Linked DNA regions of Homo sapiens: all the other regions are linked to region 3. Evidence: fine-mapped expression QTL. A gene starts in region 3. Each other region holds a variant in brackets. All regions are shown on one strand. Distances are between the middles of the regions.

Region 1 (7,738 bases), 43 kb after region 3:
ATCCACTTTGTGCTAAGGTTTTATATACATTCTCTCATGTAATACTTCCCATATTCCAGGGAATAGGGTGGGAGGGAGTAGGAGCAAGGGAAGGGCAGTTGGCAAACGGGAGCCAGCAGAACCCTGCACACGGCATCCTTGAAGGGTGGTGTCGGCCTGAGGCGCCACGGCCAGTTCTGTGATGCTGGATATCTCAGTACACCCTGGGCATTTCTGCAGGCATGTTGGTTGCCTCCACTAATTCATCTTTCATGCTACCTGGTTACTGAGTTGTTTTGAACCATTCGGCAGAATTTATACATAAGTGTGTCCTTTGCTCATTCTGCCTGCATTTGTTGACAGCCCTTTTTTCCTTTCTTCTTGTTTTCTTCTGCCACTGCAAACTGGGGTTTTAGCCTCAAGCCCTATCCTGTTCCTGTAGGGTGTGTTTCAGATGCCAGCTTATTTCAGAGTTCCCTGTGAGCCAGCGGGTGCATAGAAGCTAGGTTGTTGTCTGCATTCTGATCTTGCATCCAGCAAGCCACACACATTTGAAGAAAGAATAGAGAGTTGTTTGGATCTGGCTGATTGAGCAACGCAGGCTTTATAATTGTGTCAAGCTAGGTCTTGTCAGACTGCATCGACTTAAGTAATATTCCATGTCAGGCCCACAGGTTTATGGCATTGAAGCCTCTTTGTTTCAGTCTCAGTCATCCTAAACAGACTTCATTTCCCAATAGAAAAGCTTTAGATGTGAATGAACCCCAAATACCTGAAAACATCCATTTTCTGCCTGCATGGCTACTGGTCCCAGAACCGTTACAATGCTAGTGCAGCCATGCATCCTTTTAAGTCCATCTCTGAACAGTATTGTTTGGTTATAACTGTATGGAGAATTAGGGAGCTTGATATATGTCCCTTTGCAATGCCTTCTAAGTCTTAATAGCCAAAACTGGGTGGTAAATATTATTTCCTTTTCCCTTTACTATGTGAATGATACTTAGACAAAACTTATATAACTATCTTAACTATGCAGACATTTACTTCAGCCCAGAGTGTCTGTGATCTTGACTATGAGAATCTTGTCTCTTGAGCTTTCTTTTTTAGCTTGAATATCTTTCTATATTTCGAAAAGATGGACCAGAAATATTTAAGTTACTACTTAAGTCAACACAGGATGAAAAGTTTTTAACTTCTTTAAAGGATTAATGAGGGTGCCCTCCAGGCCAATCCCAGTGTGCTCAGGAATTACCTCTCTTGTTGGGGATGTGACATGCTCTTGGCCAGAACAGAGCTCAGCCGGATGTCACTGTGCTCACTCAGCCTGTGGGGTGAGAGGCCGAGGATTGCTTCCTGTGGGCTGAGTAAGCCTTCCTGTGTTGTCAGCGACTGCCAGACTAGCTGCTGCCAGGCAGTACCAGCTTGCCCATCAGGCGCTCTTGTTGCCTAACTGAGACACTCTGTGCTTTCAGGAACGAGAGTACCCTGATGTCCAGACAGCCTCCCGTTGCTGTCTAAATATTTGTCTTGGATATGCTTGTAAGCACCACTGGGTTCCCAGCACTCTGAGTGGGCCTTCCTGGAGTGGGGAGCCTGTGTCGATGGAGCAGTGGGTGGGGAATTTGGAGATGGAAGCCAGGCCCTTGACTCAGAACTGCTCTGTACTTGAATGGAACTGAGCTATGCAGTATGGCCTGGTGGAAAGAATGTGATCATGGGCATTAGCCTCCAACAGACCTTGAGTGTGAATACCCGCTCTCCTGTTTATTGCCTGACCTTGAATACAACAGTTGATCTCCCTAAGCCTCGGTTGCTTTGTCTGTGAATCAGGGAAGAACACTAATACCTACTTTGCAATGTCGCTTTGAGAATTAAATGACAAGCTAGCATATAGAAGCACCTCAATAAATTAATATTAATTGTAACAACCACCACCACCATAACCTTCATGCAGAAATAATTACAGTTTAGGATTTGAATCCTGGCTGTCACCGTTAGGTAATATTTCCTAGCTATAATAAAACAGCTTACACTTGTTGAGGACTCATTTTGTGTTAGATATGCTAAATGGGTTCTCTCTTAATCTTCACAACAACCCCATGAGGTAGATACTGTTATCACCCCCATTTTACAGATGTGGAAACTGAGCACCAGAGAGGCTAAATTACACACCCAAGGTGATACTGCAAGAAATAAGGGAGGGAGGCTTAATAAAAATGCAGAGCTTTTTGATTCTTATGCTGGTAGTCTTAATTAATACCTCAGGTGCTTCAGGAGTAAATAAAGTAAGCCTCAAATTAAATAATAAATGTGAAGTGTCCTGTACATGGATATACACAATACATAGTGGAGGTCTTCCACCCGAGTGGCTTTTAATCTAAAATCTGAAAGTGGCTTGCACCCTTAGATATATGAGAGAGCTTAGTAAAAGTAAGAGTGACTGGAGGAGATCCTGCTGGGCTTGGCAGCTCTGAAGCTCCCATCGCACTCTCTGTCTTGTTCTCTCAATCTGACATGGTTTCCTGTGTCTTTTGCTCTAAGCAGCAGACCTGCTTGGACTGTAAGAAAAATTTTTGCATGACCTGTTCGAGCCAAGTAGGGAATGGGCCCCGCCTCTGCCTTCTCTGCCAACGGTTTCGAGCTACAGCCTTTCAGCGAGAGGAGCTCATGAAGATGAAGGTGAAGGACTTGAGGGACTATCTCAGCCTCCATGACATCTCTACCGAAATGTGCCGGGAGAAAGAAGAGCTGGTGCTCTTGGTCCTTGGCCAGCAGCCTGTAATCTCCCAGGAGGACAGGACTCGTGCCTCCACCTTGTCCCCAGACTTTCCTGAGCAGCAGGCCTTCCTGACCCAGCCTCACTCCAGCATGGTTCCACCTACCTCACCCAACCTCCCCTCTTCATCTGCACAAGCCACCTCTGTTCCCCCAGCCCAGGTTCAGGAGAATCAGCAGGTAAGGGCCCATTTGTAGTCTCTGCCAGTCTGTGCCAGTTTGAGGGCTCATTTTCATTTTCCTCTCCTGCCTTTGTTGTGAGAATGGGGTATAAGGCTAAGTGTCTTGATTATGTGAAGCCTTTCTGACTACTGGTGCACCAAGTGTTTTCTGGGTATCAGACTCATGTTTTGGCTTTCTTCAGAGGTGATATGCACAGTACCAATTTTTTTGTTTGTTTTTTGTTTTTAATACACACATATCCTAGTTAGACATTTTTTAAAGTTCATCATTCCAGAAATATTTTGAGAAAAGTAACCATTAAGCCATCAAATTTAGTTCTGTTCCAATTTGTCTTTCAACTTAACTCCTTTGTTGCAGTCTTCATTGGCTGGATTGGAAACTTAGTTCCTTAGTAACCATCACAAGGAATATAGGAAAGCAAAGGGCTATATGGAGGCAAGGGAGGGTGGGGAAACAGACAAAGACACTGCTTCTCTTACCAGTCACTGGCTGGAAGCAGGAGTAGTTGGCACGCTGTACTTGCATGCTGCTTCTTCATTATCCTGGGGGGCTTGGAAGTGGTAAGCTAAGAGCAGCACATCAACTGAATCATGACCCAGGTCTGGGGAGTATAGAAATGAGTAATAAACTGTCTCTGTCCTCAAAAAGCCCCCAGAAGAGGGAAGGTAGACAGGTAGACCAACTAACTACTGGATTAGAGTGAGGCCAGTGGACATAATTGTTGTATAAGAAGTGATGATGTTGCATAAGTGCCTTAAGTGACTCTGTTATTTATAGCAGCGGCCCCTAACCTTTTTGGCACCAAGGACTCGTTTTGTGGAAGACAATTTTTCCACAGACTGGGGTGCGTTGGTTTT[G/T]GGATGAAACTATTCTACCCAGATCATCAGGCATTAGTTAGATTTTCATAAGGAGCATGCATCCTAGATCCCTCGCATGCGCAGTTCACAACAGAGTTCACATTCCTATGAGAATCTAATGCCACCGCTGATCTGACAGGAGGCAAAGCTCAGGCAGTAATGCTTACTTGCCAGCCACTCACCTCCTGCTGTGCATCCGGGTTCCCAACAAGCCATGGACCAGTACCAGTCTGTGGCCCAGGGGTTGGGGACCCTTGATCTATAGGGCTTGGGCAATATGGGGGAATTAGGAACTACAAGATCCAATTTCCACATCCACTTTTGTCACTGACTTCTTGATCCCCTTGGGCAAATGTTGAGCCTACAACAATGAAATGAGGTTAGTAATCACAGACCACTTTTGATCTTGCCAGGATGTTGAGAGACCTGAATGCGTGATACCATGTCTAAAAGAGCTCTGAGTTACTTAGAGCTGGTATAGTGCTAGTGCTGTTGGTTCCCACACATGATGTGGATGGCTGCTGCCACTTGTTTATGATCACCTCCTTTGCCAGGACTGGGCCCCCTGATTCAGCTCTTGACAACCACTGAGGCATAAAGGCCAATGTGATAGCATAATTTAACTGCAGTAAAATCATTTAACTCCCTTTTTGGCCTGAACATGTTTTTCTCCGCAGCTGGACTTTAATTCTTTCCTAAGCTCTGACTCTTGGTCTGCTAGACAGATTTAAACTCCTGCTATATATTCTTCCCTTTGCTTGTGTTTTTTTTTTTTCCACTCTATGTATAAGGAGCCAGGAGAAGAACTTGAGGAATTCTTTTTCTGTAAAGAACCTTGGCTGGGCGTGGTGGTTCATGCCTGGTAATCCCAGCACTTTGGGAGGCTGAGGCAGGCGGATCATTTGAGCCCAGGCATTTGAGACTAGCCTGGCAACATGGCAAAAACCTGTCTCTACAAAAAATACAAAAATTAGCTGGGCGTGGTGGTGGGTGCCTGTAGCTACTCAAGAGGCTGAGGTGGGAGGATCATTTAAGCCTGGGAGGTCGAGGCTGCAGTGAACCATGATCATGCCACCACACTCCAGCCTGGGCAACAGAGTGAGATCCTGTCTCAGAAAACAAAAACAAAAAACCAAGCAAACTTTTCAGGTAGATTTTTCAATGAAAGATGATAAGCTTCCTGTCATTAACCAGAAATTTCCAGATTGCACCTAAAGGTCACCCTACATACAAGATCTAAGTGGGTACTTTTCCTCTGAGATTTTCAAGAGACCTTAGTGTCTGCTTACATCCCCTGTTCTGGTGAGAGCTGCACTTTGCAAGCAGGAAAAACAGGCATGGAAGAATTAAGTAACTTACGCAGTACTGTCTGACAAGTTCATAAGTGAGCTGCACCTAGAATGTAAATTTCCTTATAATACTTGCTCAACCAGAGTTCTCTCTTTCACCTTTAGTGCCCTAGCAATCAATAGTTGCTAGGCAAGGAAGTATATACAATAAGCACAACTGTGGACAGGTACTAGTTTTGGATTTTTATTTAGCCAGTGGGCAAACTGGAAAGACAAGAGCATGCTTTGCAGCATGAGGTCGTTTCTCTTTCTAGGAAACAGGACATCTGAAAGATAGCTACTTAGGAACAGGTTAGGCTCTGAAGGATTCCAGGGTAATTCCAAGGTAACACTACCTGAGAGACCAGTGAGGATCTACAGTAAGCTAAGAGAAAACGTTGTTGATGAAGACATTGATTTGGATCCATCCCCATACATGTGTACTATGCATTTGATCTTGCCTTGATTTGGCATTTTGTTACTTCTGCTTTTCATTTCCATTGCAGTTGGTTGCCTCTTCTTGATTAGCTCCATATTATGAATCCTAATGTGGGGTGAGTGGCTGGGGTCGGTGGGTGTCTTTGGTTTCCCAGATTGTCCCTTCACTGGCATCCCCAGAATCTGGTGGAAAAGGCCTGTGAGCTCAGACACCTCTTTGCTCTGAGCTCACAGCAGGCCCTTTGCCTGCAGGGAGCAGTGGGCGAAGAGGATCTACTTAAGGGGTTTGTGGCTTAAATGGTGATGGAATTAGGAGGCTAACAGTTCTGCCTACTCTTTGGCCAAACCTCCTAAAAGAGTACTCAGGAGGAACCTTTTGAGAAGTGAGAATTCTAAGCATAATGAAATTCCGTAAGCATAGGCAGTGTTTTATATAGTGTTAGGCTAATAGATTCTTAGATACATTAAAATACTCTTTGACTAGGTCTGGACATAGCACTTAATAATAGTGTGCTCAACATGGGGAGCACATTTCCAGAATGTGAGAGTAGTTACTAGGCAGAAAAGAAAGAGACTAGGGTGGTGATGATCTGGAAACTTTGTCCCATCAGTGTCAGATAAGGAAGCCAGGGAGATTTAGTGTGAAGGAGGGGAAAACATGGTATAAACAGTTTGGGAAAAACAAAAAACAAACAAACAAAAACCCCAGGAGACTATGGTCTGAGGAGCAGAACCAGGGATAGGGATGGCAATTTTGGATCAGTGTCAAGAAAAACCTTGATGCCAGATAGAGAGCAGTCCAGCAGTGGAATGGACACAATGACCTTCCCTTCACCTGTGGTGCTCAAGCTGAGATTAAATTGATGATGAGTTGTGGCTACTGCCATCCTGGTGTGTGCAGAATTAATGCAGTTTTGTTCTAGAGGGCAGCTTTGTCTATTGAAATGTATTTTTGTTGTTTCTCTGCTTGACAAAGTTGGTATGAGAGAGCAGGCTTTTGTAATGATGCTGTAAGAGGCTCCGGATTTCTGGGCATGATGGGAGTACATTCTGGACATTGTGTGAGTTGAAAAGAGGCCCATGCTATGCAGATCTCTGGGACATCTCTAGATGTGATGTTACTTTTCTCTTCCCACAGGCCAATGGCCATGTGTCTCAGGATCAAGAGGAACCCGTCTACCTGGAGAGCGTGGCCAGAGTACCTGCTGAGGATGAGACCCAGGTGGGGCCTCTGCTTGGGTCTGTGTCTTCACCTTTCCTCTTTCACTGGTGTTCTTCGGAACCTCTTAGCAGAGTCGAGTGGAGAGAGAATAAATGTGTGATGATAGTGCTTCCGAAATTATATTTTTGGGGTAGGGTTTAGTGTTAGTGTTCCAGGTTAACTAGTGAAGCGGTCAGTGTATTTATAAGGAGTTGTGAGGTCACAGTGGAGACGGAGAAGCCTCATGGCCCATTGTATTTCCAGTCTCTTGACTTTCTAAGAGCTGCCGGAGGGCAGGCTTGTGGTCCTGCTGTTAAAGTCTTGTTCTTTCCTTGCTTCTAGCACACTGTAGCCATTGTCAAGGGAAGGAGGTCAGACAATTAGCCAGGCAGGGCCAGTCCAGAGCACAGACCAGGGAGCTGTGGCCAAGGTTGTGTATAGAGGAGTACTTGCCAGGGAAATGTGCCTCTTGTGGGCAAGCAGAAGTCTCCAGGGGAGAAGGGCCAGCACCATGCTGGGTTTCATGTGCGGCCATATTTAACCTCTACAGGACCCCTGTGGGGTAGGACTGCTCTCTCCCCTTAATGGAGGGGCAAACGGGCTCAGAGTGGTAAGCAACTTGCTGGATATTATTTAGCATTAACAGCAGAGGAGTCAAGATTCAAAATTAGGGTCATATGACTCAAACCAGCACTCCTTCTACTATACTTCTATCTAGTACTATATCACACTGATTGGTTGGTCTGTGTCTGTTTGCTCCTGAGCACAGAATCGTGGGTCAGGAAGAGATTCTAGTATATTTTGCAATGCAGAGCACCATGCCAGGTACTCATCCTGTCTCTGTTCCTACCCTTCATGAGGTCAGTCACCAAAATTATGATGTGGTGACTGCTTTGGGGTCCTTGGAGAAAGAGCTTGGGGAGGTAAGAGCTGAGCACACTGATCTCATCTTTGTCATTGCAGTCTATTGACTCAGA
Region 2 (7,738 bases), 380 kb before region 3:
AGACTAATATAACAGTACTAAATGGCAGAACTGGAATTCAAGCCATCTTCATTGACTCTGTTCTCCAAGACCTTAGCCCCTGGTTTATTGCCTCCTGATGCCCATTTCCCAGGTGTCTGAAGAGCATTTTTCAAAGTCACAGTTAACCTTAATTTTACTAAACTTAGGTTTAGTAACACTTTCCAGTCATTACCTAGCTGTATCTGTCAGCAGTATTAGACATCTTAAAACCTTGGCAGGTGACTTTGTTCCAGGCTTTGTTAATACCAAATACCCTTGATTTTTCTCTTACTTCTTTGATTTTTCATACTCAGACTTTTCTACAGTCTCCTTTTCAATGTGGTCTTCTTTTACTTATCTTCTAAAGTTGATGTTCATGGAGAATCTGTTCCAAACCTAGATGTTCTCATGCCATGGTACACATGCCCCTCAGCTGATCCACTACTTCTGTGTTTCAATGCTAATGATTTCACCTGGCCAGTTCTAGTGCATCTTTTAAGTCTTGGCCTAAATGGAACCTACTCCTGGAAGTCTTATGGAACCATGGTCTCCAGATTCGTTCAGATACCCTATTCAATGTGTTTTCCCTCTTAGAGCCCATGTCACAGATGATGGTAAAGGCTAATTTCATTAGTTCCCTTCCCTGCCAGCCAGTCAGCTCCTAAAGAGACTATACCTGTCTTTCTTGCTATTGTCTTATCCCAGCACATATTAGACACGTTTTAAATATTTTCTAATAAATGAATTGCAGGCCTGTAACAATTTTTTAATCAAAAATGAAACAAATATTCTAATACTTTAAGGTGCAAGTTCAACATGGAGGCAAATCACTGCTCCCTGGGTGTGTATCCATCTTACCCAGACCTGGTCATCGATGTCGGAGAAGTGACTCTGGGAGAAGAAAACAGAAAAAAGCTACAGAAAACTCAGAGAGACCAAGAGAGGGCGAGAGTTATACGGGCCGCGTGTGCTTTATTAAACTCAGGAGGAGGAGTGATTCAGATGGAAATGGCCAACAGGGATGAGCGTCCCACAGAGATGGGACTGGATTTAGAAGAATCCTTGAGAAAGCTTATTCAGTATCCATATTTGCAGGCTTTCTTTGAGACTAAGCAACACGGAAGGTGTTTTTATATTTTTGTTAAATCTTGGAGTGGTGATCCTTTCCTTAAAGATGGTTCTTTCAATTCCCGCATTTGCAGCCTTAGTTCTTCATTATACTGTAGATCTGGCACCTCTGTGCTTCACATGAATTCAAGACAGGCATTCGATTTCCTGAAGACCAAGGAAAGACAGTCCAAATATAATCTGATTAATGAAGGGTCTCCACCTAGTAAAATTATGAAAGCTGTATACCAGAACATATCTGAGTCAAATCCTGCATATGAAGTTTTCCAAACTGACACTATTGAATATGGTGAAATCCTATCTTTTCCTGAGTCTCCATCCATAGAGTTTAAACAGTTCTCTACAAAACATATCCAACAATATGTAGAAAATATAATTCCAGAGTACATCTCTGCATTTGCAAACACTGAGGGAGGCTATCTTTTTATTGGAGTGGATGATAAGAGTAGGAAAGTCCTGGGATGTGCCAAAGAACAGGTTGACCCTGACTCTTTGAAAAATGTAATTGCAAGAGCAATTTCTAAGTTGCCCATTGTTCATTTTTGCTCTTCAAAACCTCGGGTAGAGTACAGCACCAAAATCGTAGAAGTGTTTTGTGGGAAAGAGTTGTATGGCTATCTCTGTGTGATTAAAGTGAAGGCATTCTGTTGTGTGGTGTTCTCGGAAGCTCCCAAGTCATGGATGGTGAGGGAGAAGTACATCCGCCCCTTGACAACTGAGGAATGGGTAGAGAAAATGATGGACGCAGATCCAGGTAAGAGGGAACCAGATTCTCCCTTCCTGACCTTTCTACCTCTTCCCCAATACCACTTCCTTCTTTATTCTCTAAGCTTGACCTTCTCACACCCACTGAAATTTACTTTCTCTAAATCTCCATGCTTTTCATAGATGGGAAGTTTTATTGGGTGAGAAAAAGCCAAAATGAGATATTTTGTGAATGGTGATTTCCCACAAAAGAAGAAGCAAAGGAAAAACCTTGGAAATTGGTTCCTTTAATAAAACCATTGAATTGGAATCTGTTGGAGCCTCATAATAGTGATTAGCTTGTACCTCAGATTAGCATAAAATCAACTCTGGGAGACAAGAGCTAGTGTTGGTTGAGGTTTGTTTAAGTTGAGGTTAGTGGAGGTGCGTGCACAGGGATATAAAAACCTGATGATTATAACTTAAAGAGAGTTTTTTTCCACTGCAATTCAAGCAAAGAACTATTCAAACATGGAAGAGGGGGCATTATATTGCATGGGGAAACACCATTCAAGGATCAGAAAAAGGGCTTTTAATGATGAATCTTTGGGAACCTGGACATAGAGTCAAGAAAGGGTAAAGCATCTGACTTTGTGGCCTGACTTGTACCATGTTAGATGAAATTTAGACACAGCCTTGTACAGCCTATTCCAATAGCGAGACATGAAATCATATAGTGTAAATTAAAATGTTCTTTCTTTCAGAGTTTCCTCCAGACTTTGCTGAGGCCTTTGAGTCTCAGTTGAGTCTATCTGACAGTCCTTCACTTTGCAGACCAGTGTATTCTAAGAAAGGTCTGGAACACAAAGCTGATCTACAACAACATTTATTTCCAGGTACTGACTGCCAGTTTTTACATCAGGAGAGAAGGAAGTCATTTAATACATTTCGTGGAAAACAAATCCATGAAAGATTGTGTCCTGCAGATCCAGGTGTACACAGTGACAATGCCACAAGCCTCTTGGGGATGAGTTTCAGGTGCCTTTAGAAATCATCTGGCCCATTGGTTGCCACATCTGGCTGATTATTAGAAATGCCATGGAAGGTAGTTAAACATGCAGATCTCCAGGCCCACACCAAGAACTTATGAACGCTTAATTTCCAGGGGAAAGGCCTAGCCATATGCATTTGGGCAAGCTTCCCAAATTATTCTGATGCCCTGCTGGGTTTGGAAACCAGTGATCTAGTACAACTACAAGGGGAACAATGGAATAACTAGCCACTTCTGGTCTACTTTTCAAGGATGGAGGAATTATGTCTGTAAAAGGAATAAAAACATTCACCTGGTAGAATATAAGAATATAGAAAAACCACAAATAATTTCTCTTTGGAAGAGGCTAGAGGGAACGACTCGCTAATGCTTCAAAGGTGGCACCAAATAATAATTCAAGCCCATAGACAATGTTATGTAACCCCTCTCCCTGCTGCCCAAACATTTTTTAGCAAGGTTTTTTTCTCGGAGTTCCTACTTACAAAATGAAACCTAGATTTTTCAAGGAGGGAAATGGCTTAACTTCATACATTGAACATATTAAGTATGAGATTTGACAAAAGAATATGATACACAAATATCCTACGTATGTCCAAACATTTATGAAGGGCAAGGTAATTCATATATTAGGCCTTCCTTAGGTCTGTTTACCACCAAATAGTTTCTTTACTTACCTGAGAGCTTTATAGTCATTAGCTTATCAGAAAAGTTTTTAAACATTCCACATTAAGAATCCAAGGTGCAAGAGTAATTGAATACATGGCTTTCACTTTCTCAGGCTCAGTAAATTGCATTTCAGTTGACATGCTCCACTGTCCATGAGATACATAGAAGGGTGACATCATTCATTTTACCAGATTTGTAGGTTGTGGGTTAAAGAGATATGCACCAGGCAAGGCGTGGTGGCTCATGCCTGTAATCCCAGCACTTTGGGAGGCCGAGGCGGGCAGATCATGAGGTCAGGAGATCGAGACCATCCTGGCCAACATGGGGAAACCCTGTCTCTACTAAAAATACAAAAAAATAGCCGGGCGTGGTGGCAGGAGCCTGTAGTCCCAGCTACTTGGGAGGCTGAGGCAGGAGAATGGCCTGAACCTGGGAGGCAGAGCTTGCAGTGAGCCAAGATCGGGCCACTGCACTCCAGCCTGGGCGACAGAGCGAGACTCCGTCTCAAAAACAGACAGACAGACAAACAAACAAACAAAAAACCAGAGATGCACCAGAAGGAATTTCTGTTAAATTGTACAATTCTTTGGGGGCTTTCCTCTGTCTTTTAAATGTAACATGTGATTCATACAAAATCACATAAACACAGTGAAAACATCTTTCTATTTTCTTCCTGTCTAGTTCCACCAGGACATTTGGAATGTACTCCAGAGTCCCTCTGGAAGGAGCTGTCTTTACAGCATGAAGGACTAAAGGAGTTAATACACAAGCAAATGCGACCTTTCTCCCAGGGAATTGTGATCCTCTCTAGAAGCTGGGCTGTGGACCTGAACTTGCAGGAGAAGCCAGGAGTCATCTGTGATGCTCTGCTGATAGCACAGAACAGCACCCCCATTCTCTACACCATTCTCAGGGAGCAGGATGCAGAGGGCCAGGACTACTGCACT[C/T]GCACCGCCTTTACTTTGAAGCAGAAGCTAGTGAACATGGGGGGCTACACCGGGAAGGTGTGTGTCAGGGCCAAGGTCCTCTGCCTGAGTCCTGAGAGCAGCGCAGAGGCCTTGGAGGCTGCAGTGTCTCCGATGGATTACCCTGCGTCCTATAGCCTTGCAGGCACCCAGCACATGGAAGCCCTGCTGCAGTCCCTCGTGATTGTCTTACTCGGCTTCAGGTCTCTCTTGAGTGACCAGCTCGGCTGTGAGGTTTTAAATCTGCTCACAGCCCAGCAGTATGAGATATTCTCCAGAAGCCTCCGCAAGAACAGAGAGTTGTTTGTCCACGGCTTACCTGGCTCAGGGAAGACCATCATGGCCATGAAGATCATGGAGAAGATCAGGAATGTGTTTCACTGTGAGGCACACAGAATTCTCTACGTTTGTGAAAACCAGCCTCTGAGGAACTTTATCAGGTAAGCAGTTGGATCTTACGTCTTTAAGTTTTATTTAATCTGGGTTTAATTTTTTCTGCTAAGTCACCTTCTTCCTTGAGAATTGAGTGGTAAAATGATCTGTGGCAATATACTGTGCTCGGAGGAACATGATACAATCATTTTCTCCCCTTGTTTTCTTAGAGAAAACCTGAGTGTATTCTTTTAATTTTTACAGTGATAGAAATATCTGCCGAGCAGAGACCCGGGAAACTTTCCTAAGAGAAAAATTTGAACACATTCAACACATCGTCATTGACGAAGCTCAGAATTTCCGTACTGAAGATGGGGACTGGTATAGGAAGGCAAAAACCATCACTCAGAGAGAAAAGGATTGTCCAGGAGTTCTCTGGATCTTTCTGGACTACTTTCAGACCAGTCACTTGGGTCACAGTGGCCTTCCCCCTCTCTCAGCACAGTATCCAAGAGAAGAGCTCACCAGAGTAGTTCGCAATGCAGATGAAATAGCCGAGTACATACAACAAGAAATGCAACTAATTATAGAAAATCCTCCAATTAATATCCCCCATGGGTATCTGGCAATTCTCAGTGAAGCTAAATGGGTTCCAGGTGTTCCAGGCAACACAAAGATTATTAAAAACTTTACTTTGGAGCAAATAGTGACCTATGTGGCAGACACCTGCAGGTGCTTCTTTGAAAGGGGCTATTCTCCAAAGGATGTTGCTGTGCTTGTCAGCACCGTGACAGAAGTGGAGCAGTATCAGTCTAAGCTCTTGAAAGCAATGAGGAAGAAAATGGTGGTGCAGCTCAGTGATGCATGTGATATGTTGGGTGTGCACATTGTGTTGGACAGTGTCCGGCGATTCTCAGGCCTGGAAAGGAGCATAGTGTTTGGGATCCATCCAAGGACAGCTGACCCAGCTATCTTACCCAATATTCTGATCTGTCTGGCTTCCAGGGCAAAACAGCACCTATATATTTTTCTGTGAAGTGACTATTAGGAAGAACTCCAAACCAAAATACTGTGTAAATGTCTATGGGTGACAGTCTGCTGATGGTAGAAACCTTTCTTTTTAGTTCACAAGTCAGTTAGAGATTTGGACAGAGCTGACACAAAGAGTTTGGAGCTCCCCCATTTCTGGCTCTCCTTTCAGGGGTTCCTCCCCCAACTCTTTTCAGCAGTGGTGGCTGCCCCCCATTCTGACCCCTGACTCTTGCAGCCAGAAAGATGGTGGTTTTCTAAAGGAACTTTAGCTGTGCTGCACAATGCAGACCTGTGTCTTGCTCTCTGGGTAAAAGCCATAAAAATAAGAAACTCAGCCTGTGGCCTTTCTTCCAAGGCTGGAGTTCTCGAGTTCTTTTATGTGACTTCGTGTAGTTTGTTGCTTTAAAAAATTTGTCCAGAATTGTTTTCTGCAGAAGCATGGTCTGTTAGGAGCTTACAGGCCATAGGAGAAGCAGTTGTTTCCTGAATTTATCTTTGCTGTATTCATTTAGGGCTTGGGAGAGTCCCAAGATAATTCAGTCACTGTCAGATTAATCATTTCGGCAGAACAAACAATATTGTTATGATTATTTAATCCTTAAAATTGTGATCTCCAGAGTTTGTTATCAGAATAACCCAGACCAAGGCTTAATTGTAATAGTGAACATTAATGGTACCTTTACAGAGAAATTATAGGCCAAGAGAAAATGCTGGCTTTCAGTAGAAGTTAATATTAGAAACCCAAATCTGGTTCTGAAAGTGTGTATCAGATGTACGGTGAACAAACTTGGGAAAGATTTTCTTTAAAAATCAATGAGCGTTGGCCAGGCACGGTGGCTCACACCTGTAATCCCAGCTGTTTGGGAGGCTGAGGCAGGTGGATCACCTGAGGTCAGGAGTTCAAGACCAGCCTGGCCAACATGGAGAAACCCCATCTCTACTAAAAATACAAAAATTAGCAGGGCATGGTGGTGCATGCCTGTATCCCAGCTACTTGGGAGGCTGAAGCATGAGAATCACTTGAATCCTGGAGGCAGAGGTTGCAGTGAGCTGAGATCATGTCACTGTACTCCAGCCTGGGCAACAGAGTGAGACTGTCTCAAAAAGAAGAAGAAGAAAAAAAATGCAGTGAGTTTATGTTGTTACATTGTAACATCTCAGCGTAGCTGTATGCATTACTCTATAGCATAACTACTTAAGTTTTATGTCATTCTTGAACTGTGATTTTTTTTTCTATTTGCTTTCATAGTTTGGTGGGCCATTGTTATGGACTGAATGTTTGTGTCCCATCCTCACCCCTAAATTCCCATGTTGAAGCCCCAACCTTCACTGTGGAGCTGGGGCTGCTAAGGAAGTAATTAAGGTTACACGAAGTCACAGTGGAGAATCTGATCTGCTAAGACTGGTGTCCTTATAGGGAGAGACCCCAGAGAGCTTGTTCCCTTCCTCCCTGTGCACACAAACAAGAGGGCATGGGAGCACACAGAGAGATGGCAGCCACCTACAAGCCAAGAGGAGAAGCCTCACAATGAACCCCCCCCCCCACCCTGCTGGCACCTATGTCTTCGACTTCCAGCCCCCAGACTGTGAGAAATAAATTTCTGTTGGTTCAGCCATCCAGTCTCTAGTGTTTTGTTATTGCAGCCTGAGAACACAGCTGTATGATCATTCATCAAACTAAAAACACTGATACTTAACAATGCTAATGCAATTACTTATTTGCTTTTCAGTCTCTACAAAACATTCTAAAACACTAATCTAAATACTAACAATAAAATATTTGCATAACTAATGAAAATTAAGAAACCACATGCCCAATATTCCATTTATAAGTAATCCT
Region 3 (7,738 bases):
GAGGCTGAGGCAGGTGGATCACCTGAGGTCAGGAGTTCGAGACCAGCCTGGCCAACATGGCAAAACTCTGTCTCTACTTAAAATACAAAAATTAGCCAGACATGGTGGCATACGCCTATAATCCTAGCTACTTGGGAGGCTGAGGAAGGAGAATTGCTTGAACCCAGGAGGTGGAGGTTGCAGTGAGCTGAGATTGCACCATTGCACTCCAGCCTGTGCGATGAGAGTGAGATTCCGTCTCAAAAAAAAAAAAAAAAAATTCAGTTTCTGGGGCCTCCCTCCATGTCTGCTAATTCAGAGTGTCTGAGGGACTGGGATGAGAAATGTTCATTTTCAATAAGCACCCCTGTTGATTCTTAAGTACCCCTAGAGTTAATTGTTGAGTATCATAAAGTTTACTTCATTTTTCATGTTTAATTTCTGTGATTTATTAGATGATAAATATTTGGTTGCCATCATATTGTTTTTCTTAAATACTATGTTCTATAGTTAAAAAAAAAAAAAGGCTGTGAGGTCACTGAACACCAAGATTAGAATTTGGCAATCATTAATTATCAACAAGGTGAGACAGGCACTGATTCCTGGAAATGTGCATTTATCCATTCACCGACTTCTCAGTTAGAAAAAGGATGTGGACACAAGTAAGATTAATTTTGTTAAAAACAAGAAATGTGCAGTATCATTTAGGATGCTGGGGGTAGGGAAGTAGATAAAAGGGAGATGTTGAGAGGAAAGAGTGTGAAGAGAGAGTAAAGCAGTTTGTAAGTGATACAAACTTTAAAATTTTAACTGAATTTTAAACTACCAAGTCATATTTGAATATATGCTTGTTGTAAAAAAATTCATGATTTTTGGGGGGTAATTTGGATAAAGCTAAACATAGCTATTTGATCTTTATTCCCATTACAGTGCTCTCCCTGCTGTGTGCATCCTCCCAGATCTTCTGTATGTATTTGGTAATTTTCTGTGGATTTGGAAGACTACAGAATCCTGAGAAATGGATATTTTAATTTCTCTTTTGAAACCTGCTTATTGTTTATAATGTCAAGATCTATTGCAGAAAAGAAAGTAAATCTGGGATGTCAATGACATCACATATGTCTGTTCAAATGAAACAATGGGCACATACACATATGCACACTCATTAAATATCTGTTGAGACCACCCTATTAAAAAAAGCATAAATAGTTTTGGGTGTTAAGTTACTTGAGTTTTAAAATAACGTATTTTCTGTTTTTGTTGTTTTTTGTTTTGAGATGGAGTCTCCTTCTGTCGCCTGGGCTGGATTGCAGTGGCGCAATCTCGGCTCTGCAACCTCTGTCTCCTGGGTTCAAGTGATTCTCCTGCCCCAGCCTCTAGAGTAGCTGGGGTTAGAGGTGTATGCCACCATGCCTGGCTAATTTTAAAATAATGTATTGAAAGAACTTAGTCAGAAAGCCACAGTTATTATTTCTCCCATAGCCTCATATTCTCATAATTTTCATGTAACCTCATAAATCCTCAAGTGCCTGAAACCACTAGTTCAAACGAGTACCTTTTTAAGCTCTAAAATGTAATCCTCAACCTTTCCACTTTAAAAGGAAGAACTAGGATGGAGTGTGGCTATAATTTGGGGCAGTTGGTTAAAACTGTATCAGAGTCCCAAAGAGGGGAATGATAAGCTGCAGCAGCTCTGTTCACTTGCTCAATGGTGTTTCTCTTAGTCAACTTAGGAGTTCCATGCCTTTGGCCTTCAGGCTGCTCTTTATATAGTTCGTATCTGTCTCCTGGGCATAGTACTGTCTGGATTTTCTCTTTCTTTTTTTTTTTTTTTTTTTGAGACGAAGTTTTGCTCTGTTGTTGCCCAGGCTGGAGTGCAATGGCACAATCTTGGCTGACTGCAACCTCTGCCTCCCGGGTTCAAGCGATTCTCCTGCCTCAGCCTCCCGAGTAGCTGGGATTACAGGCATGTGCCACCACACCTGGCTAATTTTGTATTTTTAGTAGAGATGGGGGTTTCTCCATGTTGGTTAGGCTAGTCTTGAACTCCCGACCTCAGGTGATCCGCCCACCTCGGCCTTCCAAAGTGCTGCAATTATAGGCGTGAACCGCTGTGCCCGGCCCTCTTATTTAAAGTTCGCAAATACAGAACAGGTCAGGAGCTTTTCTAATCATTTTTTTTTTTTCTGAAGGAGGTTCCATATTTGTCTGTACCTTGAGAGTTGTTTCATACTAGAATTTGTAACTTATCATCAACTACAGAAATTTTTTTTAAAGTGTGGTTGAAGAGATAATGGTTGTCAGCTGCTATAAAGATGTGTTTATCATTCAGAAAGGACTAATTAACATGTACTATAGGGAAACTTCTTTAAACAAAGCCATTTTCTGAAAGGAAAACACTGAAGGGGAGGAAATAAAACAGGGAACATTTTATAATACCTTATCAAAGCTCAGCGTGGCTATCCTACTGGAATAATGTAATTAAGGAGAATTAAGTGAGTTGGATAAATAACTTTTTAAAACTAGCCCCTTGAATAGAAAATTAAGTAGTATAGTTTTTAAACTCAAATTCTGTCTGCACGTACATTTTAATTAACCTAACATTATTGAATGACAAGCTGAGTTGGCAGCTACATCCAGAGTTCATGCCATGTGAGACCTACCTTAAAGGATGAACGAAGCTGGGTGCAGAGGCCTCAAATGCCCTGCTAAGAAATAGCTGATGGCCTTGGGGAACTGTCATACATTTTAAGCAGGAAACAGAAGGATCTAATAGGAACTTTAGTTTCTCTCTTGTCAAATTAAAGCACACAAAAAGCAAGGACTTGATCTTTTTTTTTTTTTTTTGTATAACACCAATGTCAATTCTAGCCTGTCAGGGCAAATTCAGTAATTAATAGCTGTTGATGAGCCAGTCATTCTAGATTGATTTTTTAAATAAGCAGGCTAATAAATGAGAATTGACATAAATTTAGGGATGTCTCTTTTCAGAGCAAGTGTTAAGGTGATTTTCATAGTCTTCTGTATTCCCTATGCATCCAGTAGGTGTGATGGTAAATGATTTGGCTTTAGCATAGAGAATGTGGCAGCTGATTAAAAAAAAAAAATTCCAGTGCATCTATCTTAATGAGAGAACTTGAGTTGTCTGAAGAAATAGAGAGGTCAGAGGAGGCCTAGTGGGAAAAAAGAACAATGAGCCTGGTTAGAACTGACAAAAATTCACCCTAATGATTTGACTGGCTAATGATGACTGGGCAAGTTCCCTGAGTCCACTGACCCAGATGTTCTAATTTGTAAATGCAAAGTGACTTATTTATCAGCCTCCTGGGGAAATCTTCAGAGCTGTGAACCTGCTATGTTCAGTAATCTTGCTGGCCCCAGCCCCAGCCTGTTCTCAGATGAAATTTTAGAAACTGGCCACTGGAACTTTTTGGGTAAGGGCTCTGGAGGTGGCCAAGTTACCAGTAGTGGGGGAATGAGGTTTACCTGCCCCCAGTAATCAGCACTTGATTTAAAACAATCAGTGAGCTGCCTCTTCTTTCCTAGGTTGCAGTTGACTGCGGTTGGTTCAGGCTGAGTTGTTTGGGAAGTACAAATTTTGCCCAGCGTGAGTCAGCACTGCCCTGGGTAAACTCCCTGCTGTGTTGCAATCTTGCTTACCAAAGATACATCCCCAGGCGGCACCATTCACTTCACATGAAAGCCGCTGCTCTTGGTTCCTGAGATGATCTCATCTGAACATGGCTCCAGCGACCTCAGCCACAGGAACTAGAGACAGCTTGCTTTCTGTCGTGGCAATGTTTTGAAACTGGCAAAATCAGGTAACCTCAAACTGTTTTCTTAAGTTTCATTAGCTAGATGAAGCTGCATTAGAAACTGGGAAAATCCTGTCTTCAGAAGTGAGTCAGGTTTTTTTTTTTTTTTTTTTTTTTTTTTTTTTTGAGACGGAGTTTCACTCTTGTTGCCCAAGCTGGAGTGCAATGGTGTGATCTCGGCTCACTGCAACCTTCACCTCCCGGGTTCAAGTGATTCTCCTGCCTCAGCCTCCCAAGTAGCTGGGATTATAGATGTGCGCCACCATGCCCGGCTAATTTTGTATTTTTAGTAGAGACAGGGTTTTGCTGTGTTGGTCAGTCTGGTTTCGAACTCCCAAGCTCAGGTGATCCACCCTCCTCAGCCTCCCAAAGTGCTGGAATTATAGGCATGAGCCACGGCCCCCGGCCAGAAGTTTTCTTTCATTTGAGTTCTGGATGTGGAGTTAGGTCCAATTAAATCACTGATTATATAAATCTTAGAAAAGTAAAACGTTAGGTTTACAGCTTTATCCGTCATTTGCTCTTGTATTTTGTTTTTTTGTGTGTATCTTGTGAGAAACACTTTAGTCAAACTAAGCCATTGTTAAAGGAAAAGAAGTGAAGGCATTTGGTTGCCTTCCTAATAACTAAATATTGAGTTGTGGAGAACACTGTCTTATCAGTGAGTTTGTTCCCATATTCCTTTCTGAATTAATAGGAAGAACCTCCCTCATCTCTAATTCTACTAGGCTACTACTCTATCTCCCTCCTGCTTTTCATCGCCAAACTTTTGAGTCCTTCACCTAATCAGACTATGATATCTCTAGGTAGTCGTCACCCTCCAAATTACGTTTCTGCTCCTTATAATTCCAACAAATTGCCCACGTTCTCTTTCACCTCAGACCTTAGCATATGTAAGCGTTCTTTTACACACCTTCCCCAAGCTTAATCTGGCCAACTGGTTTCAGCCTAGAAGTCACCTCTTCCATGAAGCCTCTTCTTACTTACCAGGGTTGAGTACTCAGGAGAACCTGGTATTTACTCCAATCATAGTATGTATTGAGAATCAGGGTCTGCTTTGCTAGAATTGTATCCATGGTACGTTGCACATAGTAGGTTCTCAGTAAGGGTAGAATGAGCAAGAGCCTGTACTGTACTTTCTCAACTCTGATCCTCTCATCAACTCTTTTTTTTTTCTTCTGAGAGGAATCTTGCTCTGTCACCCAGGCTGCAGTGCAGTGGTGTGATCTTAGCTCACTGCAACCTCTGCCTTCCTGGTTCAAGCGATTCTCCTGCCTTAGCCTCCTGAGTTGCTGGGACTACAGGTACGTGCCACCACGCCCAGCTAATTTTTGTATTTTTAGTAGAGACAGTGTTTCACCATGTTGGCGAGGATGGTCTCGATCTCTTGACCTCATGGTCCACCTGCCTTGGCCTCCCAAAGTGCTGGGTTTACAGGTGTGAGCCACCGCGCCCGGCCTTGTTCATTCTTTTTATGCTCACATCTTTAAATGTGCTAAACCCTGTTGATTTTGTTGGAGTACTGTTTGATGTGTGGCTTTTCTTCATTCCCACTGTCATTGCCTTAATTTACCAGAGGTCAAAACTGGACGTTTAAAGTCAGGCTGGGCACGGTGGCTCACGCCTGTAATCCCAGCACTTTGGGAGGCCGAGGTGGGCAGATCACCTGAGGTCAGGAGTTTGAGACCAGCCTGGCTAACATGGTGAAACCCCATCTCTACTAAAAACAAAAAATTAGCTGGGCGTGGTGGCACGTGCCTATAATCCCAGTTACTCAGGATGCTGAAGCAGGAGAATCACTTGAACCCAGGAGGTGGAGGTTGCAGTGAGCGAGGATCACACCACTGCACTCCAGCCTGAGCAACAGTGAGACTCCATATCAAAAAAAAAAAAGAGTTTGAGACCATCCTGGCCAACATGGTGAAACCCTGTCTGTATTTAAAAAAAAAAAAAAAGGCACGCCACGCATGGTGGCCAGTGCCTGTGGTACCAGCTACCCAGCAGGCTGAGAAAAGAGAATTGCTTGCACCCAGGAGGTGGAGGTTTCAATGAGCTGAGATTGTGCCACTGAACTCCAGCCTAGGCACAGAAGAAGACTCCATCCCAAAAATCAATCAGTCAGCCTAAGGGCTTAAAATTTTGTGTGTGAATACTTTTAGGCACCATCAGAGAGAAGGCCTGTACTCTTCAAAGATTACGGATACCACCATTTTCTGACATCTTACACACTGAAGACTTAGCATTTTACCTGCATTGCCTCTAGGAATTTGAGTTTGTAACTCCTAGTTCAGACCCTTATCAAATGGCCACTCCTCCATAAGTCTTTCCTTGCTCCTATCTTCTCCATATTGTTGCCCAAGTTATCTTTTTAAAGTCCACATCTAATCTTTTCATTTAAGGTGCCATTTGTTCCCTGTTTTCCACTTAGCTTGACTTCTAAAAGCTTTCACAGTTGGATTCTTTCCTACATGTTGCTGTTAACCATCTCATCTCCCTCTCCCCTGGCCATTTCTCTCCTCTCCAGCTTCACTGAACTTCTCATGTTAACATTCCATGGATATACCATGTCTTTTAGGACTCTGCCTTTTCCCAATGGACTCTCCCTTCTCTAACTGGCAAGATACTCATCCCTCAGGACACTTAGTTCATATATGCATCTTCTCTGACTTCTCTGTCTTTTCTGACAGACAGCACTGTCTGTCTCTTCCACTAGACTGTTGAGTTCTTTGACTGAACTTGGTGTCCCTGGACTAGAGCTTGGCACCATCAGAGAGAGTGGCTGACGTGGATCTCCGGGCTCAAACCGTTATTCTTTGCAATATTAGAAGCTTTTTTGTTAGATGGCATGGTTTTTCATTCCTATTTGATGAACATGAGCCCATGGCTGCTTATTTTGTATGTGTTACCTGCCACCATCAAGTAATCATTCAAAGTTAATTTGAAGATTTAAAGGGTTTGCTGAGATCTAGTCCCGCAATATCACGACATTTTTATGGTGTTTTACAAAATTATTTCCCTCATATGGTTTTATTTGCGTTGGGTAGGCTTTATTTATTATCCCTATTTTACCAGTGATTATAAAGCTAGTCTGATACCAAAGCATATATACATTTAGGTAAGACTCAGAGAGAAAACATGGTTCTTACACTGCATTAAGCAGCTGGTTTGTCTCTTAATATAGTAGTTAAATATACTCTATCAGGTTCCACAGAAATGGTGCCTTTGCTCGATAGGCAAGTGCTAACGGTCTTGCCTTTTACAAGGCCACTTTATCATCAAGGTAGGAGGAGGAGGTACTCTGAACCTGCCTGACCTATGGGAAGGCCCTGGTTGTGGTTAGAGACCTTGATTGAAATTAATGGTGTGCGTACTCCAACCTCTCAGGTTTTTCTTTTATACTTCAAATATCTGGAAGTTGTGAAAACCTGCTGCCCTGGTGGAGTATCAAACCAGGCTGGTGAGTGAAAGCGGTCATCCCAAAATGGAGTAAGCTGAGTGTTAAGGGCAGAAAACCTTTTACAGTTATAGTAAGTAATTAACTTTTTAGATCACTTCACAACTTTTGGAGTGCTAAAATGCCATATTTGGGACTATGAGAAATTCCATTATAAAAAGCTGAACCATTAGAGCTAGGAAATAATCTCTGTTAGATATTGGCATATGGTGTTCAATTTTGGGTCTCTCATACTTGAGAGGATAATTAAAATGATTAAAAGGTTGAAAAACAGGTCTTATCATTATAAGTTTTAAAAAGGGGGGAAAGATTTTAGCCTAGAGAAAGAAAAGCTAAGAGATAACTTCATTATCATCTTCAAATACAAGAATAGTTTTGCCAGGGGGATTTTTATTAATTATTCTTCATGAACTTCAAAGATTTAAGAGGAAATGGTCTTAAATTGAAGGAGGAGCAATTTTGATGAATACGAGAAAGAATTTTTTGATCA

The links. PIP is the estimated chance that this variant, and not a neighbour inherited with it, causes the effect. A credible set is the group of variants that fine-mapping cannot tell apart.
Region 1: its variant is the best candidate, but not a certain one, in a credible set for the expression of RFFL in whole blood (TOPMed, PIP 0.86).
Region 2: its variant is the best candidate, but not a certain one, in a credible set for the expression of RFFL in whole blood (INTERVAL, PIP 0.87).

What each region holds. Positions count from the first base shown.
Region 1 is chr17:35,016,567-35,024,304 of GRCh38, reverse strand. It overlaps RFFL (ring finger and FYVE like domain containing E3 ubiquitin protein ligase), which reads left to right. Exons shown (of 7, transcript NM_001017368.2): 3 at 2,524-2,934; 4 at 6,699-6,782; 5 at 7,725-7,738. It overlaps RAD51L3-RFFL (RAD51L3-RFFL readthrough), which reads left to right. Exons shown (of 7, transcript NR_037714.1): 6 at 7,725-7,738. Among named protein-coding and RNA genes, the nearest start is that of LIG3, 40 kb to the right of the region's middle. The variant G/T (reference allele first, on the strand shown) is at 3,795.
Region 2 is chr17:35,438,759-35,446,496 of GRCh38, reverse strand. It overlaps SLFN13 (schlafen family member 13), which reads left to right. Exons shown (of 6, transcript NM_144682.6): 3 at 804-1,882; 4 at 2,577-2,708; 5 at 4,211-4,934; 6 at 5,131-7,738. The coding sequence starts at 817. The coding sequence ends at 5,902. Among named protein-coding and RNA genes, the nearest start is that of SLFN13, 6.1 kb to the left of the region's middle. The variant C/T (reference allele first, on the strand shown) is at 4,477.
Region 3 is chr17:35,059,638-35,067,375 of GRCh38, reverse strand. RFFL (ring finger and FYVE like domain containing E3 ubiquitin protein ligase) reads left to right here and starts at 3,669. Exons shown (of 7, transcript NM_001017368.2): 1 at 3,669-3,800. All of the region lies in intron 5 of RAD51L3-RFFL (RAD51L3-RFFL readthrough), which reads left to right. RefSeq lists enhancers at 3,488-3,587, 3,037-3,832, 2,919-4,118 and a silencer at 3,828-3,897.